Homo sapiens: one gene and its partner. The protein of the gene in region 2 purifies or fractionates together with the protein of the main gene of each other region. This does not show direct contact. Each region holds a gene or a part of one and is shown on either strand. Other genes may lie near its edges.

Region 1 (9,976 bases), on a different chromosome or scaffold from region 2:
CAGCATTACCTACAAAATGAGACCAGCTACTTAAGAAATAAGGTGTCCCTGGCTGGGTGTGATGGCTTGTGCCTGTAATCCCAGCACTTTGGAAGGCTGAGGTGGGAGGGCTGCTTGAGCTCAGGAGGTTGAGACCAGCTTGAGCAATGTAGTGAGACCTCATCTCAAAAAAACAAAGGGCCAGGCGCAGTGGCTCATGCCTGTAATCCCAGCACTTTGGGAGGCCGAGGTGGGTGGATCACGAGGTCAGGAATTCAAGACCATCCTGACCAACATGGTGCAACCCCGTCTCTACTAAAAATACAAAAATCAGCTGGGCGTGGTGGCACACACCTGTAATCCTAGCTACTCAGGAGGCTGAGGCAGGAGAACCGCTTCAACCCGGGAGACAGAGATTGCAGTGAGCCGAGATCGCGCCACTGCACTCCAGCCTGGGCGACAGAGCGAGACTCCATCTCCAAAACAAAACAAAACAAAACAAAACAAAACAAAACAAAAACACCAACCAACCAAACCAACAAAAAAAACAAAACAAACCTACAAATAGGAAAAAAAAGGATGTCCCTGGGTGGGGAGGGAACTATTCAGAAGAACCAGAAAGCCTGGGTTCTGCTGCAGTCACTGAGTCTAGGTCAGGGTTCTGGCACAGGATTTACCCCAGACCAACTAAGTCACAACCTCTAAGGTATCTAGGTGTTTTCTTTGAGTCCCCAGGTGATGCTAAAGTTCTGAAACACTATGATATGGCTAATAATAAAACCAGGAACTCAAAGATGTTTCCTGATACCTGGTGGATAGCTACTCCGGGTAACCACAAAACATCTTGAGAGTAGTACTGAGCAATTTATTTTCATATCTCATATGCTTCAAGACCTCGGTGGACAAACTCTAACAAGCTCTTACCAACGTCAGGATAACACTTTTGGAATACCACGTGTGGACAGGAGTCCTAAAATGTTCAGGTAACCAATGACTGCCACCATTAATTCAATGAGATGACCAGCTCAGAGATAGGCAGCCTAGATTCTAGTCTCACTTGCCTTCCTGAGGCTCAATTTCCAAGAAATACTCCAAACAGCTACAAAACCACAGGTCTACTGGTTCAGGCAGTCTTTTCCCACATTAAGTTCATCATTCACAAATGGCATTCTTCCTAATAGACAAGGTTATTCACTGTCTTCTCTGGTGTGACTGTCATTGTTTTATGTCTTAGTTAATGGCCCAGAGAGCCTCCTGAAGTGGAGGATAGGGAAGTAAAGAAGTGCATCACTCCATAACTCTCTACCAATGAGATGGGCCAGTAAGGTATGTGAATAAAAATGCCACACCATCATAATGAAAATGGGGACAATTCAAGGTATGGCTCTTCTGCTCTCTTAACAAATGCCAACTTGACTACTAGGCAGATAAGCAAGGATAGAAGATCACTCCTTACACTGATGAGGGCCAGTCAAGGGGGGGGTCATAGCAAAAACGAAAGGGTAAGAACTGGGCAAACCCACAGTTGGCCTCTGGCCAACTCCCTACTACAACTGATAACATTGCTTTCCACATTCCCAGGTTGGGAGCAAAGTCCACTAAGAGCCAGGGCAGGGCCACTAAGCCCTTACCAGCCCACGTGGCTTCCCTTCTCATCAACTAAAGGATTTTGTGGCATCTGGTACACCTGTTTAGCAAGACCGGCGTCTGCATCCGGCCATAACTCAAAATGTTCAGATGGCACCAGTTTCCATCCTGCTCCCAAAGTGCCAAGGACAAGCAGTACACCATCCCCATGTAGTCAGCATTCTCTTGTTCAAGGACTAAAATTCCTTATCTTTAAAATGAGGTTCCTACTTACCCTGCTAACTTAGTTGATATGATTATCAAAGAAAATCAAGCAAATGATGCACACTACGAAACATAGAAAAACCTTCCACTCCCCTTTCCTCTCTTTTTAAGACCAGGGTAGAAGTTCCCAAGCCCACCTCCAAAATCTTCAAAATACCTTCATTCTCAAGGAGAAAATGTGGCAGAGCTGTAGAGACAGGCCCCAAGACAAATGGAAAACAACCTGTCTGGATTTCCTCTGCTCATTCTGTAGCACCATCTGTCCCCACACCGGCACGAGGCAGCAAGGAATGGGAAAGATTCAGGTGCTCTGAGTTGGCAAGGAGGGGCTGGGTCAAATTCCTCTCCAGACTCCAGTGCTTGGGAAACAGTGTAATGTTAACCTAATGAAATGTCATTCTCCAGAATGCATCCAGAAATTTTGCTAGAAAAACGTAGTAGCTACTTTCAGAAATGAACATAATTTAAATGCTATTCCTTCAATGGGACAAATGCCAATAAGCCTATAATGGAATACCACTGCTTTCAATCCCCAGATCGCAGTATAATACCTTAGCACTGGTAATTGATCCAAAAGGAGAAAATTCTTTCCTTAATTTCTCATCATCAATAGTGTCATCCAAGTTCTTAATGTAGAGATTCACCCCCTGAAGGAAAAAGATCACTGTTAACTACACTTCTATATCACAAATATTCCCTAAGAAAGTGGTTCCCCAAGGGTGGCCCCAGACCAGGAGCACCAGCATCTTTGGGAACTTGTTAGAAATGAAATTCTCGGCCGGACGCGGTGGCTCACGCCTGTAATCCCAGCACTTTGGGAGGCCGAGGCGGGCGAATCACAAGGTCAGGAGATCGAGACCATCCTGGCTAACACAGTGAAACCCCGTCTCTACTAAAAATACAAAAAATTAGCCAGGCATGGTGGCGGGTGCCTGTAGTCCCAGCTACTCAGGAGGCTAAGGCAGGAGAATGGTGCGAACCCGGGAGGCGGAGTTTGCAGTGAGCCGAGATTGTGCCACTGCACTCCAACCTGGGCGACAGAGCGAGACTGTCTCAAGAAAAAAAAAAAAAAAAGAAAGAAATGAAATTCTTAGGCCAGACCCCAAACCCAATGAATAAGAAAAACTCTGGGGCTGGAGCCCAGCTATCTGTTTTAACAAGCTCTGCTGATGAATCTGATGCAAGTCCAAAGTTGTGAAACTACTGCCCTGAAACTGACAGGATCATCAGTGCACTCACCTTTTGTCACCTCTCCCCACAGCTGTTCTGGTGACCACTCACCCACCCCAGCAGGGGTCTTCTTGAAGCCATGCCAAACAAAGGAGTCTCATTTAAGTAAAAGGAACCTACATGGCTAAAAGCAACAGGCTGAGGCTTCCAAAATAGAGAGCTTCTTGATGAATAAACCCATCTCTTGTTTCTGGTTCTATAATAATCAGTCATATGTAGTAGGTATATATCCTTTTAAACCTCATCTTTTTAGGTAAAATGGGAAGAAGAACACACTCCAAGTCCTCAAAAAGAAAGCCCGCTAAACATAGGGGTGTTCTGCAAATATTTCACAGCAAATCCCATTGCTAGGCTGGGCCAAGACCACCTTACCTGATATCGACTAATTCTCTCCTGTTTCAACTGTTCAAATTTCCGTTTTAACTCTGCCTGCCGTTCTACTTTCTTTTGTGCACGGCCTACAAATATGATTTTACCACTTATTTCTTTTCCATTCATCTCTTCCACAGCCTAGAGAGGAAAAATATGTCTTTAAAATAAAGTTGCAGCGATGGGGTCTTATTCTGGAGGTCTAAGTCCCAAAAAATATTCTTTCTACTATAGGACTAAAAACTAAATTCACTCCACCTCTGAAGTCTGTCACACAAATCCAAACTTCCTCATCTGTAAAGTGAGGTTAATATTTAAATGGGTTATTGATCCAGATAATATAGAAATAGTACAGGTGTATAAACACAAGTGTGCTGACATGAGCCTAGGGCGATATAATATTCCGGCTGCCAGTAAATTCTGCAGGTGCTTTTGTGGGTATTTAAGTGATAAATATTGAGGGTCTGGCACAATGCTTTGCCCACAAGTAGCTGCCGTGCTGTTATCAAATCAGCACTCACTGGGCTTTAGTTCTCTCACCTTTGCAGCATAACAAACGTCTGTCCTATTCTTTCAACAACTGATAGCTGAGGTGACAGGTATGTGCCAAGTGCTTTGTAAACACCTACATGAAGTTAACATGCGGAACCCAGGAAGATGATCCCAGAGTATAGTAATGGTACATCTACTACCAGATACTCAGACCGTCCCAGCTCTAGGTAGGTGCTAGCAAGACCCTACCCATACTCTGGGGCAACCTCTTAAAAGCTTTTCCCAATCTTTGTGGTATACTCACCTTATTGGCATCCTCGTGTTTTTCGTAACTCACAAAGCCAAAGCCTTTGGATTTCCCATTGGGATCTCTCATCACCTTGACACTTAGGGTCTTACCTATTACCAAAGGACAGAACTATTAGTAACACCATCTTGAGCACAGCTCAGGAACAGAAGGCTTCCCTCTGGAAACTCACTTGAAGCAAATCTCTGGAGCAGTGCCCTCATCTCTTAAGAAAAAACAGATGGGTCTGGTAGACTGTGAAAGGAGACAAGGAACCCCAACTTACCAAACTGACTGAATAGCTCTTTCAGACTCTCATCATCCACCTCTTCCCCAAAGTTTTTGATATAAACATTGGTGAATTCCTTGGCTTTGGCTCCAAGCTCAGCTTCCCGCTCTTTGCGAGACTTGAATCTGCCCACAAATCTAAAATGAAACCATGAAGAACAGTAATTACCCAGAGGAATAAAACATGATGTCCAGGGACCCAAAGGAATACAGGTTAAAGACTGACAGGAGAGGTTAAAACACGAGATCCCCATCCACCACCAAGGAGGCTCAGAGATACCCCAAGTCCCCAGCAGAAAGAGAAAAAGGCAGGACTATCCTGTGAGGACCAGCCCCAGGGCTCCTGGCTTAGACCAGGGCTATTCCTACCACATCACACTGCCTTCATGAAGAAACCTGATGGCCATGTTTTTAAAATGTTCATTTCTGTGCAACTATGTAAATGCATAGAAAAGGTCTGGAAGGATACAAACCAAACTGTTAACAGTGGTTAATCCTAGATATGAGATTGTTGGAGTGAAGGGGCACCCTTTGCTTTTTAAATTTATTTATTTTGGTCTGTTATACTTAAAAGAAAATTTATCCATGCACTGACATTTTTGTATTTCTTTTTAGTGATATCTGTAGATCAACCACTGCACACACAGACATTATAAAGATAACCCATCCTCTGGCATACTGAATGACACAAAGGACAAAAATTATTTTGGCTTGTAATAGCCAAGACTTATTGTCTCTTCTTCTCCCCATATGGCTTTGGTAAGTTCCCCCTCTCTGCATTCTACAGTAACAACCACATCAAAGCAACAAGGTCTGTTATGAAGTTTTTCTGCAAAGGGATGGGATTTTTTCATTGTCACCAAGTATTACTGTGGAGCCAGCCTTGTATTAGGTCACTGAGTCATAAGTTAGAAAATGGAGAACCGCGGGGACAATTTGGCATCAACCACTAGCGAGGGACCCATGGACAGACCTGAATCACAGGAAAGCCAAGGTCACACTGCTAGTATACAGCTCCTGGTCAGTCCAGGGCCCTCTCCACTCTGCCGCTGGCCAAGACCCCGACTCAGAGTGAGCTTAGAGCTGCTTTCCAGCCAGCCCCAGTTGTTGATGCTCACAAAACCCACAGACAGATGCCTTTAAGGGAGAGGCGGCAGGCAGGCCATGGCTTGGGCAGGAAGCCCACCTTGGCGAGTCAAAAGGGCTGCCACGGCTCAGGCAGGGAGACTCACCAGCCCTGGAGTGGAGAGGTAGGAGCAGGCCACACTTGGGCCGAGAACCAGTAGCCGCCTTGTGTGTGCCAGTTAATAGCGAGGTGGGGCCACGGCTGGCTCATGCGATGGTTGTTGCTCCGGACTGGGACACTCACACTTTGCGGTCATTGAGGAGCATGCCATTCATCTTCTCGATGGCCTTGTCGGCAGCCTCTTGGGTCTCGAAGTGGACAAAGGCATAACCCTTAGAGCCGTTCTCATCACACACCACCTGTCAAAGACAAGGCGGACCACTTTAGCAGAACTGGCCAGCTCCTGAGACATGAGAACCTCAGGGTATCTTGTGCCTGAGGAGACTCTAGCCCATCCATGGCCAATGGTGGTCAAGTACACCAGTATAATTTTTCTAACACCTAGCACAGCACCAGGTGCCTAGTAAGTGTTCCATTTACAAAGGTAGCCCTACTAAGATGCTTCTATTCCAAATGTTTTATTTTTATCAAAAACAAACAAACAAAAAATACTTAAAATTGGGTGCTGTGGCTCATGCCTGTAATCCCAATGCTTTGGGAGGCCAAAGCAGGAGGATCGTTGGAGCCAGATCGTTGGACAATGGAGACCCTGTCTCTACAAAAAAGAAAAAAATTAAATGAGTGTGGTGGCACGTGCCTGTAGTTCCAGCTACTTGGGAGGCTGAGGTGGGAGGATGGCTTGAGCCCAGGAGGTCGAAGCTACAATGAGCTATTACTAGACCACTGCACTCCACCCTGGGTGACAGACAGAGCAAGACTCTGTCTCTTTAAAACACAACAACACATTTTAAGAGATCTGGGTGCAAACCACGGTGATGCAGAAAACAAAACATTTTCCAAGGCCACAACAGATTTTCAGTGTAGTATGGCATTAAACATATACACCACCACCGTTTAAGTTTTAAAGTGCTCAGCATAGAACAGATACGTAGAAGGAATAGAGTGAATTTATGCTTCTAAAGTGATTAAGTTTCCTCAAGACTAGAGACACTTCTCTGGTCCTCTACTTTCCCCCATCCCAAAAGAAAAACGTGGGCTTTCCAAAGCTAAAGAATAGGAAGGATATTTCAGGCTGAGTAAAGAACAAGGGTATGAAAGCGTGTGCTGGTTACGCTGGGTATGGCCCTGAGATTACCTATGGGAACTTTTAGGATTCCATGTCCAGCATTTTGAAAATTCCCATATCTTGTTCCCCAATTCCAAGATAGTTCTCTGTTTGGTATTTATCTTGTTTTCAAGAATCAATTAATTATTCTGCTAAAATCATTTAATCAATGTTTACCTTGCAGGACAGTATGTTTCCAAAAGCAGAAAAAGTATCATAAAGTGCCTTGTTATCTATAGATTTGTCCAGGTTCTTGATGAAGACGTTTCCCACACCAGATTTTCTCAAAGAGGGATCCCTCTGAGACCACATGATGCGGATTGGCTTTCCCTTAATCACATCAAAGTTCATGGTGTCCAAAGCCCGCTCAGCTGTAAGAGAGAAACACATTTCAATAAGGAGAGAAAACGTCAGCTCCCACAGGCCAACAGCCTAAGAACAGATTACTCCAGGACTTTTCAAGGTAATCACTCTTGATAAAAGGCAACTCTATTAAAATAAAAGGGCATCAGATTCCTCCAGCCTGCACTGTTAGTAAGGGAAGCATAAGTTCCAGCTAATGACTCTACTTCATGACAGAAGTCTAAACACCCTTCTGGGTCTGTGCCCTTGTTGGATAAAGGGGCCACAAGTAAAGATAATCTAAATGGCCTTAATGACACCAAGATCCAGTGATAATACCTCACATTTGACTAAGCTTTACCACTTAGAAGAGACTTTGCAGACTACCACCCACCATGACTCAGGTGGGACAGCTGAAATTATACATTTTACAAAATGAACAAACTTATGTTTAGGGTAACTAAGCTGTGCAGCTAGCTAGTAATTACGAAACTAATACTAGATTATCTGATTTATTTTTCAGTGAGGTATTGCATCAAAGTTATCAAGTCATTTAGTCTGCAATCCACCTATGGAGACAAGTGACAAAACCTGTAAAGCAAATGATCTGGAAAAAAAAAAAAAGGTGCTATCCCTGAATTCAGAATTCAGTCCAGTTTATTTTCAATTTCTGAGAACAGAAATTGACTTAAACAAAAAAGCATCAGTCATCAAAATGGACACAACTGATCACACATGGAAAAGTTCTCTGTACTATCACAAGGATAAAACCACCATACCTTCTGCCTAAGTAGACAGTGCGCAGATGGCAGGCCCTGCACCCACCTTTTGAAGCCTTAATGGAAGTTCTGTAGAATTCTAGGACTTCAGCTACCCTGGGTGCTCAACCAACTTCCCCATCCAACACCTTGGAATGCTTCCTTAGCTTCCCAACCAAGTCCGTGTGTACACCAGAGACAATTTAAAGAACCAAAGGCTGGGCTGGGTATGGTGGCTCACTCCTGTAATCCCAGCACTTTGGGAGGCCAAGGCGGGTGGATTACCTGAGGTCAGGAGTTCGAGACCAGCCTGACCAACATGGTGAAAACCCCATCTCTACTAAAAATACACAATTAGCTGGGCATGGTGGCGGGTGCCTGTAATCCCAGCTACTCAGGAGACTGAGGCAGGAAAATTGTTTGGACCCAGGAGTCAGAGGTTGCAGTGAGCTGAGATCGCGCCATTGCACTCCAGCCTGGGCAGCAAGAGTGAAACAGTGTCTCAAAACAAACAACAACAAAAAGAACCAAAAGCTAAAAAATAACACCACCTGCCAGCCAAAACACTTCTCATCACTAATCGCAACAAGGATGCCCAGATCTGGTGGCCACTTTTCCTTAAGGCTATGATGGCATCTCCTAACGGTGACATCACCCAGAACCTCCTCCATGAGGGGATTTAGACAGGGTCAGAGCAGTGGAACCTGCTCCTTGCCTCAGGACAACATCTCACTTAAAGGGGGGACAAAATTCCCCAACTCTGCCGCTCCACAAGCTCAACTGTTTCATTAGCCGGGAGAATTTATTTTCACTCATTATTTCCAACAACTTTCCCCACCCCCTTCAGAAGGTGGGCCTCATCTGTGTGGGGGGTAGTTGGGAAAAGGGGAGATGACAAGACCGATCCAAGTCAGGAACAGTCCAGGGAAAGAGGACTTTGCTTGTGATGGCTATCAGAGATAGATAGCTGGGATCGCAAACTATTTCATTAATTAGCAGTAAAGGAGCCCACTTCAACAACAGCTCCTCGTCTATTTCCAGACAGCACTGCACAAGGCAAGCCGGCTTAGTCTGACAAATCTGGCTGCACTTATTTATAGCAGGGAGAAGTCCTGCAGAAGTATGTGTTGGCAGACACACTGACCAATAGCTTCTGCTATCTCTAAGTGACACGACTTTTGTTCAAAAGTCAGTAAGGCAGACAACAGCTAATGTGGTACATTATCCCTTAAAAAGACCACACTCAGCTACCTTTGCGCTCCTATGGCCATGGACAGAACTCAGCTTGGAGCACACTGGATTGACAGTAGCAATACCTAGTCCCTCTCAACATGTCCAATTCTCTGGTCTCAGCCGCAACCTGGGCAGGTAGTAACTCTGGGCCTCAGACAGAAAACAAAGGGGGGACCCCAAAACTAGGGACCTGGAGATGCTTTGCCATAGAATGGCTTGTTTCTCCCAGTAATGATCTCTGCAGTTGTTCCCTTTTAATCTGGAGTCACGTGCAGCCTCTGATCAGGTTTCCTCTGGCCTCCCTCCTGCCACGCCTGCAGCATACCTCTCTCCATGCTCCACGCTAAGGCCACAATCTGAGGTGGCAGAGCACTGTGCTGGGAGTCCTAACTTGGCTTCCAACTTTTTGCATTCGTTCTCCTTCTCAGGAGTCCCATTTTCTTCAGATTAGATGAAATAAAAGGGCTCTGACTAGTGCAAAGCACTGTTACAGCTGAGGTGACAAATGACACCAGATTTTCAAGTGACGCTTCCCTAAACTACCTCCACGACACTCTACAGCACAGAGCCTGGATACCATTTGTCCAGAGTAAAGCACTTCTCCACTCCAGTGGCAAACACACAGACCAAGGAGGTGGCCTGGCACACGCAGCTTTTGTGGCACTAACCTAAGTCTCTGCGAAAGTTTAACGCACAGAAACCTTCCCCCTGCTTCCTGCCTGCCCTGACTGATCCTTTATCAGCACAACATCAGGTAGTCAAGGTTAGTAAAGGTGGCGGAGCGGGCAGGAGCTTTA
Region 2 (9,976 bases):
TATCTTCAGGGCTCTCCAATTCCTCATCCCTGGGAGAATGGCCTGGATGGCTCTCCTGTACCCCACACTGCCATCTACATCTCTATACACGAAGGTAGCTCCTGGCACCCAGTTTAGTTCCTTAGGGGTAGCAACAAAAGACCCCAGCAAGTTAAAGGCAGGAAAGACAAAGAAACACACCCTAAGAGGTCAATCTACAAAACTTGCAAAGCTGGGTATGTGGGAACAGTAAAATGTTTTAATAGCTGAAAAGATCCCAGAAGGTCAGGTACACAGTCACATGGGTCAAGCAGGACTCACTTTCCTAGGCTGATTTTGAGTTCCTTTCCATAATTCTGTAATGTGGGAAGAAATATCCAAACTGTGAACTGAGCTTCTTACTAGTGTCCTGAAAAATATTTCCTTAAAAAAGTGCATAAACTTGTCTGAGGGAATTAAGACACCAGGAAGACCAAGTGTTGATGAGGCTGGAAAAAAAAACTGTCCAAATAAAATTAAGACACAACAGATTCAAGGATGACTTCTGCAGGCTCATGCTAATTGCCAGCACAGCAGGCCTCCCCTATGCCTTTGGTAGCAGTATCTTTTCTTAAAAAGGAGGCTGGGGAATAGACTTCATGAAAGATGAGGTGGCAGATCAACCCTAGTGCTCTTCTACTTATAAATGGTGAGTCTGATGGTGGTGGTGAACACAGGCTTATGAACAGGACAACAGTAACTAAATGACTCAAGTGACAACCACCATCACAGCCCTACCTTCTGATTTACAACTTTCAACAATCATCAAAAGTTACTGTAAACTAAGTACTTTAAGTCTGTGTTTTCTTGAATGGGGTTCAGGACAAACAGGCAAGGGCTTGACAGCACATTGGTTATCCGAGTTCATTGCAGGAGACCCCGGGGGTGGGGCAGCTGAGCCTCAAATTCCAGTTTGCACCACCTGCTCTTTCTGCTTGTCCCTTTTCCCATCCAACTCAATAGATTCCACAAAAAGCTCTCCAGGTGCTCACTGTCCCTGATAAGTATACAGCAGGGTGAGAGGGGCATTTCCTAAATATCCAGTTTTTCTTAGTCAGCTTATTTTGTTTAAATACACACCGCGGAACACTTCTGATGAAGGGGGGAAAATGCAATTTCCTTAACTCGAAAGAGCTATTTAAAAAAACAAAACAGGAAACTCCCCAAACAAAAGTCAGCAGAACAAAATAGAAATACTCAGAGGCTTAGAATAAGACTGAGCATATTAGTTACTCAGAGTCACAGTATTGTGAGACCACCACTCCCCTTCCCGCTGTGCACCCCTCGCCCGCCCCATCCCCCTCTTCAGCTCCACCATTTTGTGCATTACTATCCCCAGATGTGGGGACAGACAAGTCTTCCTCAAAGCTTTCTCGGCTCAGTACTTCTCTCCTGGAATAAACTCCTTGGCATCTGGGTTCAGGTTACTTTTGCTCTGAAATAAGAACCAAGAGATAGTAAATCCTAAGGCAAGCTGCATTTTAAAACTTACCCAGTCCATCATTATCAGTACCTTCCCCTTAGCTTTAGGGAGAGAAAGAAAATTCCTTGTAACTCAGGCTGTTATTGCTAGGTTATCTCAACTGCACCTGACATAGCCCTGAGCAAGCTCATCTTCTCCTTCCTTCTTTGGACTCTTGTTTCCTTCCTGATGCTTTCCAAAATCTCATCAGAGGCCTGTAAGTTCAACTCCAAGAATAATTTTTCAATTCACTGAGTACCTTAACTTGGTGAAAACCAGGGTACTCCATCAGACCAGGCTGGATACCACAATCTCTATTTTTCTTCATCTTTCTGTACTCTCTTTGGTTCTCTACTCTCTTGTGAATATCCAAAACCTTAGCAAACCACAGGGCAAGATTGTTCAGAATATGAGTTGTATGAAAACTATATTGCTCACAGACTTTTTTTTTTTTTTTTTTTTTGAGACAGTCTTGCTCTGTTGCCCAGGCTGGAGTGCAGTGGTGCAATCTTGGCTCACTGCAAACTCCGCCTCCCTCTGCCTCCCAGGTTCAAGCAATTCTCCTGCTTTAGCCTTCCAAGCTGGGACTACAGGCGCGCACCACCATGCCTGGCTAATTTTTGTATTTTTTTAGTAGATATGGGGTTTCCATGTTGGCCAGGCTGGTCTTGAACTCCAGACCTCAGGTGATCCACCCGCCTCAGCCTCCCAAAGTGCTGGGATTACAGGCGTGAGCCACCGTGCCCAGCCTGCTCACAGACTTCTGATGTTACATAAATATGAAAGGCAGGAAATTAATTTATCTGGTTTTCTAATTCTAAGTGGAGAAAATGACCTCTCAGGAGTACATTTCTTCCAAAATGAACAGCTAATTTTTATAACAGAATCATTTAGAAGTATATTAAATACAGATTTGAGGGACAGTAAAAGAGAAGAATAGCAACAAATGATATTTGAGAAGAAACTTCTTCAGTGTTCAAATTGTTATCCTTAATCCCAATTCTACTTTGAAGAGCCCATTAGAAAGTAAAGGTTGGTGGCGTCCAATCTTGGCAAGTAAAAAGCCCGTGATGCTGGCAACAGTAATGTTTTATAGTGCTTTATGAGGAGCAATGCATCTTTAATGCACCCCTTATTAATAATGCCCATAAAACGAGCAAAGAAACAACAGCTCACAGGGCTCCAGACTTGTTGAGGGTTGTAGGGCTGGAAAGAAAGTCTGTCATTCCAAATCCTATATTCTTTTCACTACATAACCTGGGGAACTACATATGGCTCTTACCAAAATATCTTCAGAATCATGACCTTCACTGACTGACAGTCCATTTAACTGCTGTTGCAACTGTCCCATGGCCTGAGGCAGGTCTCGTGAGGGAATAAACCAGTCTTGGTCTTCTTCATCCAGCATCTCTTGGAAGCAGCGGTCCAAGAAGTCTTGCTCCTGCAGTTCCTCCTCCACCTAGCAAGCAAAGGGGAGCAGCTCAGACTTACTGTCACAGCAAGACTTACCCCTTCCAGTTTTTCCTCCACCTCTTTCCTTCAGAAGGTATTACTCTGCAATTAAGAATGATCTTGAGCTGGGTGTGGTGGCTCACAACTGTAATCCCAGCAGTTTGGGAGACTGAGGCAGGAGGATTGCTTGAGGCCAGGAGGTTTGAGACCAGCCTGAGCAACATAGCATGACCCTGCCTCTACAAAAAAAATTTTAAAATTAGCCAGGCCATAGTGGTGTGTGCCTGTAGTCTCAGCTACTTGGGAGACTGAGGCTGGAGGACAACTTGAATGCAGGAGGTCAAGGCTTCATTGAGCCAAGACTGCGCCACTGCACTTCAGTCTGGGCGACAGAATGAGACCCCGATTCTTTAAAAAATAAAAATATATTTAAAAAAAAGATTTTATGATCTTACATGAGGTCCAAGGGATCTAAGGATTCAATGCGCCTAATGACTAGCTAGAGATAGCATAATTTTTATTTTTTCTCAACCAAATTCTATCACTAATAAGACTAAGAAAATAGTTATTCACAGTAACAGAAATTCAAGGTCTCCGCAGATGTTCTACGATCTCTAATAGGTGATACAGATATCATGGAAAATCATTTTAGAGCCTAAAATTCTTTTCTCAGTCTTGTTACAAAGTAACCCTTCTTAAATTTCCCATTTTATAAGAAATATGAAAAAGATACTGCAAGTATATAACTAGTTCATGACCTGGCTAGTGGAGATAAAATCAAAGCCAATGCTCTCAGCTTCTGGCCATTTTTTGGGTAAGGAAACCCTCAAGGGAGAAAAATACTTTCAGAACATTAGGAAGACATAAAGAACACTTTTTGGCATACCAATAGAAAATTACATAATCAATGTAGTATTCTTTCAAAAGATGAAATATATGAATATTCAAACAATTCTGCATTTCTTAAACATTGCCCTAAACTAAAGCAATATATATCTAGGATATTTTACACTGCTTTGCAGACATTGTTAACTCTTAGTATAGAGTGTGGTTCACTCTGCAGATTTCAGTGTCTTTGATAGGCCTCTTGCTTCATGTTTGGCATCCCTTTCCTGCAGGCTGCCTGGTGACAGATTCACAGCTCACTAGCACCACCACCAGAAATGAGGTCAAGCAAAAAATAATTTCCCAAATTGGAATATACAGTTACCTAATTAATTCAGAGGAAAAGTTACTGGTAGTGAGACTTAAGAATAGTATTTGAACACTACAATTAGCCACACGTGAAAACTAGACAGTTATGAAGTGCTTAATAAAATATTCTCATGCCACAAGATGTAACATGACCATTTGAGAGCTGCCCTGACTCTATGAGAGCATAACAGCATGCTAGCTCTTATTAAATTTACCCCTGTTCACTGGCACAACCAATGAAAATGGTTGCTGGGCACAGAGGTGTAACAGAAACATGCTACGTGCAATTCACACAGATCCCGACAGAGCCACATTAGGTGGAAATTGCTGTCTGTCCCCTTTAAACTTGTTTCCTTCTTCCCAGAGCACCAGGCTGTTCAGTTAAAATCACATTTGTCACCTTACATGCTGTATATGGCCAAGTGACTATTCATCACAAAATGTTCCCACAAGGGACATGGACACTTTGGCATCCCTTGGTTAAAAGAAGACCCCTTGCCATGGCCTTTGGTGCTCTCCCTTTCCCAGCTGCTGGACTTCCCAGTTTTCCCTCAGCCACGCAGCTGATATATGCCCTGGGGGTGGCAGAGCAATACCGTGGAAGGGACCAAGTGGGCACCAGATCACTTGTCTATCCAGAATGCTTACCTTGGACTGTTAACCTCACAGATATAAAACAATGCGTTACTGCTGAATCTTTGCTGAAGTAGTCTAGCCAACCCTCACCTCATGTACTTCTCTATTTCAGACTCACATCCTGCCAATCCCGAGTTCCCATTTGAGGCATGCCATGCTGACCTGTCTGCATATAGCTGCTGTTTCCCACAAATCTACACCCAATAACACAGGGCATTAGACCAAAACAACTTCCTTTCATAAAATAAATTTCCTCACCTTTTCCCATTAACACAAATTTTCCATGAAAACACTGCAAAAGGAGAGCAGAAACTAGATTTTTAGGAACTGGACTTAACCACATATGATTAATGAAAAATATTATATATGGGCACACGTTTTATTGCATTTTGCTGTATTTTGCTTCATAGATACTGCATTTTTTTTTTTTTTTTTACAAATTGAAGGTTTGTGGCAACCTTGCATCAAGCAAGCCTATTGGCGCCTTTTTATCAACAGCATGTGCTCAATGTCTGTGTCACATTTTGGTAATTCTCTCAATTTTTCAAACTTTTTCATTATTATTATATCTGTTATAGTGCTCTGTAATCAGTAATCTTTGATGTTACTTTTTTTTTAATTTTAGGTTTGAAGTACACGTGAAGGTTACATAAACACATGTCACAGGGGTTTGTTGTACATATTATCATATCACCAGGTATTAAGCTCAGTACCCAATAGTTACCTATTCTGCTCCTCTCTCTCCTCCCACCCACCCCCGTCAAGTAGACCCCAGTGTCTGTTGTTCCTTGTGTTCATAAATTCTTATCATTTAGCTCCTACTTATAAGTGAGAACATGTAGTGTTTGGTTTCCTGTTCCTGTGTTAGTTTGCTAAGGATGATAGCCTGCAACTCCATCCATGTTCCTGCAAAGGACATAATCTCATTATTTTTTATGGCTGCGTAATATTCCATGGTGTATATGTACCACATTTTCTTTATCCAGTCTGTCACTGATAAATGGGCATTTAGTTGATTCCATGTCTTTGCTATTGTGAACAGTGCTGCAATGAACATTTGTGTACATGTGTCTTTATGGTAGAATGCTTTACATTCCTCTGGGTCTACAACCAGTAATGGGATTGCTGGGTTGAATTGTAGTTTTAGCTCTTTGAGGAATCGCCATACTGCTTTCCACAATGGCTGAAGTAATTTACACTCCTACCAACATTGTATAAGCCTTCCCTTTTCTCCACAACCTCACCAGCACGTGTTTTTTCTTTTTTTTTACTTTTTAGTCATAGCCATTCTGACTGGTGTGAAATTGTATCTCATGGTGGTTTTGACTCGCATTTCTCTAATGATCAGTGATATTGAGCTTTTTTTCATATGCTTGTTGGCCGTATGTATGTCTTCCTTTTGAGAGGTGTCTGTTCATGTCCTTTGCCCACTTTTTAATGGGGTTGTTTTTCTCTTGTAAATTTAAGTTCCTTATAGATGCTTGATATCAGACCTTTGTCATATGCATAGTATGCAAATATTTCCTCCCTTTCTGTAGGTTGTCTGTTTACTCTGTTGATAGTTTCTTTTGCTGTACAGAAGTTCTTAAGTTATTTAGATCTCATTTGTCAATTTTGGCTTTTGTTGCAATTGCTTTTGGTGTCTTCGCCATTAAATCTTTGACCATTCCTATGTCCAGGATGGTATTGCCTAGGTTGTCTTCCAGGGTTTTTATAGTTTTGGGTTTTAGCCAGGTGCAGTGGCTCCGCCTGTAATCCCAGCACTTTAGGAGGCTGAGGCAGGCAGATCATGAGGTTAGTAGACTGAGACCATCCTGGCTAACACGGTGAAACCCCTTCTCTGCTAAATAATACAAAAAATTAGCCGGGTGTGGTGGCAGGCACCTGTAGTCCCAGCTACTCTGGAGGCTGAGGCAGGAGAATGGCGAGAATCCGGGAGGCGGAGCTTGCAGTGAGTACTCCAGCCTGGGCTACAGAGCAAGACTCTGTCCCAAAAAAAAAAAAAGTTTTGGGTTTTACATTTGTCTTTAATCCATCTTGAGTTTATTTTTGTATATGGTGTAAGGAAGGGGTCCAGCTTCAAACTTCTGCATATGGCTAGCCGGTTATCCCAGCACCATTTATTAAACAGGGAGTCTTTTCCCTAGTGCTTGTTTTTGTCAGCTTTGTCAAAGATCAGATGTAGATGTGTGGTCTCATTTCTGGGGTCTCTGTTCTGTTCCACTGGTTTATGTGCCTGCTTTTGTACCAGTACCATGCTATTTTGGTCACTGTAGACTTGCAGTATAGTTTGAAGTCAGGTAACGTGATGCCCTCAGCTTTGTTCTTTTTACTTATGATTGCCTTGGCTATTCGTGCACTTTTTAGGTTCCATATAAATTTTGAAATATTTTTTTCTAGTTTTGTGAAGAATGTCATTGGTAGTTTGATAGGAATAGCATTGAATCTGTAAACTGCTTTGGGCAGTATAGCCATTTTAATGATATTGATTCTTCCTATCCATGAGCATGGGATGTTTTTCCATTTGTTTGCATCTTCTCTGATTTGTTTGAGCAGTGTTTTGAAATTCTCATTGTAGAGATCTTTTACCTCCCTGGTTAGCTGTATTCCTAGGTTGTGTGTGTGTGTGTGTGTGTGTGTGTGTGTGTGGCAACTGTGAATGGGATTGCCTTTCTGATTTGGCTCTCAGTTTGGTGGTTGTTGGTGTATAGGAATGCTAGTGATTTTTGTACATTGATTTTGTATTCTGCAACTTTGCTGAAGTTATTTATCAGCTAAAGGAGCTTTTGGGCTGAGACTACGGAGTTTTCTAGATATAGAATCATGTTGTCTGCAAACAGATATAGTATGACTTCCTCTCTTCCTATTTGGATGCCCTTTATCTTGCCTGATTGCTCCAGCTAGGACTTCCAATACTATGTTGAATGTAAGTGGTGAGAGAGGGCATCCTTGTCTTGTACCGGTTTTCAAGGGGAATGCTTCCAGCTTTGGCTCATTCAGTATAACGTTGGCTGTGGGTTTGTCATAGATGACTCTTATTATTTTGAGGTATATTCCTTCAATACCTAGTTTATTGAGAGTTTTAAACATGAAGCAATGTTGAATTTTATCAAAAGACTTTTCTGCTTCTATTGAGATAATCATGTGGCTTTTATCTTTAATTCTGTTTACATGATGAATCACATTTATTGATGTTTGCATGTTGAACCAACCTGGCATCCCGGGGATGAAGCCTACTTAATCATTGTGGATTAGCTTTTTGATGTGCTGCTGGATTTGGTTTGCAAGTATTTTGTTGAGGATTCAATGTTCATCAAGGATATTTCCCTGAAGTTTTCTTGTTTTGTTGTGTCTCTACTAGGTTTTGGTATCAGGATGATGCTGGCCTTGTAGAATGAGTTGGGGAGAAATCCCTCCTCCTCAATTTTTTAGAATAGTTTCTGTAGGAATGGTACCAGCTCTTCTTTGTATGTCTGGTAGAATTTGGCTGTGAGTCCATCATGTCCTGGGCTTTTTTGGTTGGTAAGCTATTTATTACTGATACAATTTCAGAGCTCATTATTAGTCAGTTCAGGGAATCAATTTCTTCCTAGCTCAGTCTTGGGAGGGTTTATGTGTCCAGGAATTTATCCATTTCTCCTAGGTTTTCTAGTTCATGTGTGTAGTGCTTGTAGTAGTTTTTGATGGTTGTTTTATTTCTGTGGGGTCAGTAGTAACATTCCCTTTGTCATTTCTAATTGTGTTTATTTGGATCTTCTCTATTTTCTTCTTAATTACTGCAGCTACTAGCCTATTTCATTAGTTTTTTTCTTGAGATGAAGTCTCGCTCTGTCACCCAGGCTGGAGTGCAGTGGTGCAATCTCAGCTCCCTGCAACATCTGCCTCCTGGGTTCATGCATTCTCCTGCCTCAGCCTCCCATGCAGCTGGGATTACAGGCACATGCCACCATGCCTGGCTAATTTTTGCATTTTTAGTAGAGATGGGTTTCACCATGTTGGCCAGGCTGGTCTCAAACTCCTGACCTCAAGTGATCTGCCCACCTCAGCCTCCCTAAGTGCTGGGACTATAGGCATGAGCCACCACGCCTGGCCTATTTCATTAACTTTTTTCAAAAAACCAACTCCTGGATTCGCTGATCTCTTAAATGGTTTTTCATGTCTCAGTTTTCTTCAGTTCATCTCTGATTTTTGTTATTTCTCGTCTTCTGCTAGCTTTGGGGTTGATTTGCTCTTGCTTGTCTAATTCTTTCAGTTGTGATGTTAGGTTGTTAATTTGAGATCTTTTATCACTTTGTGAGGTGGGCATTTAGTGCTATGAATTTCCCTCTTAACACTGCCTTAGCTATGTTCCAGAGATTCTGGTATGTTGTATCTTTGTTCTCCTTATTTTCAAATAACTTGATTTCTGCCTCAATTTCATTATTTACCTGAAAGTCATTCAGGAGTATGTTGTCTAATTTCCATGTAATTGTATGGTTTTATTTTCATTGTGTTGACTTCTATTTTTATTGTGCTGTGGTCCAAGAGTGTGTTTGGTATGATTTCGGTTCTTTTACACTTGTTGAGGATTGTTTTATGTCCAATTATGTGGTCAATTTTAAAGTGTGTACCATGTGGCAATGAGATTAATGTACACTCTGTTGTTTTTGGGTGGAGACTTCTGTAAAGGTCTAGCAGACCCATTTGTTCCAATGGTGAATTTAGGTCCTGTATATCTTAGTTAATTTTCTGCTTCAATGATCTAATATTGTCAGTGGAGTATAGAAGTCTCACATTATTAATATTATGTGGCTGTCTATGTCTTTTTGCACCCAGATTCATAAAGAACTTGCTTTATGAATCTGGGTGCTCCTATGTTGTGTGCATATGTATTTAGGAAAGTTAGGTCTTCTTGCTGAATTGAACCCTTTACCATTATGTAATGTCCTTCCCTTGTCTTTTTTTATCTTTGTTGGTTTAAAATCTGTTTTGTCTGAAATTAGGATTGCAACCCCTGCTTTTTTCTGTTTTCCATTTGCTTGGTAGATTTCTCTCCATCCCTTTATTTTGAGCCTATGAGTGTCATTATGTGTGAGATGGGTTTCTTGAAGACAGCATGCTATTGGGTCTTGCTTTTTTACCCAGCTTGCCACTCTGTGCCTTTTAAGTGAGGCATTTAGCTCATTTACATTCAATGTTGGTATTGATATGTGTGGATTTGATCCTGTCATTGTG

What was found.
Region 1: the proteins of PAIP2B (region 2) and PABPC4 purify together in Homo sapiens (affinity purification with mass spectrometry; 2 studies listed by BioGRID and IntAct, with this or other methods). This does not show direct contact.

The regions. Positions count from the first base shown.
Region 1 is NC_000001.11:39,565,370-39,575,345, forward strand, and holds part of PABPC4 (polyadenylate-binding protein 4), read right to left. Parts: intron 7,835-9,976; exon of another isoform or gene 7,712-7,834; intron 7,310-7,711; exon of another isoform or gene 7,218-7,309; coding exon 7,024-7,217; intron 5,981-7,023; coding exon 5,865-5,980; intron 5,255-5,864; exon of another isoform or gene 5,111-5,254; intron 4,634-5,110; coding exon 4,494-4,633; intron 4,321-4,493; coding exon 4,226-4,320; intron 3,571-4,225; coding exon 3,433-3,570; intron 2,478-3,432; coding exon 2,382-2,477; intron 2,142-2,381; exon of another isoform or gene 2,005-2,141; intron 10-2,004; coding exon 1-9.
Region 2 is NC_000002.12:71,187,083-71,197,058, forward strand, and holds part of PAIP2B (polyadenylate-binding protein-interacting protein 2B), read right to left. Parts: intron 2,940-9,976; coding exon 2,763-2,939; intron 1,454-2,762; coding exon 1,397-1,453; 3' UTR 1-1,396. UniProt on the Homo sapiens protein: Inhibits translation of capped and polyadenylated mRNAs by displacing PABPC1 from the poly(A) tail.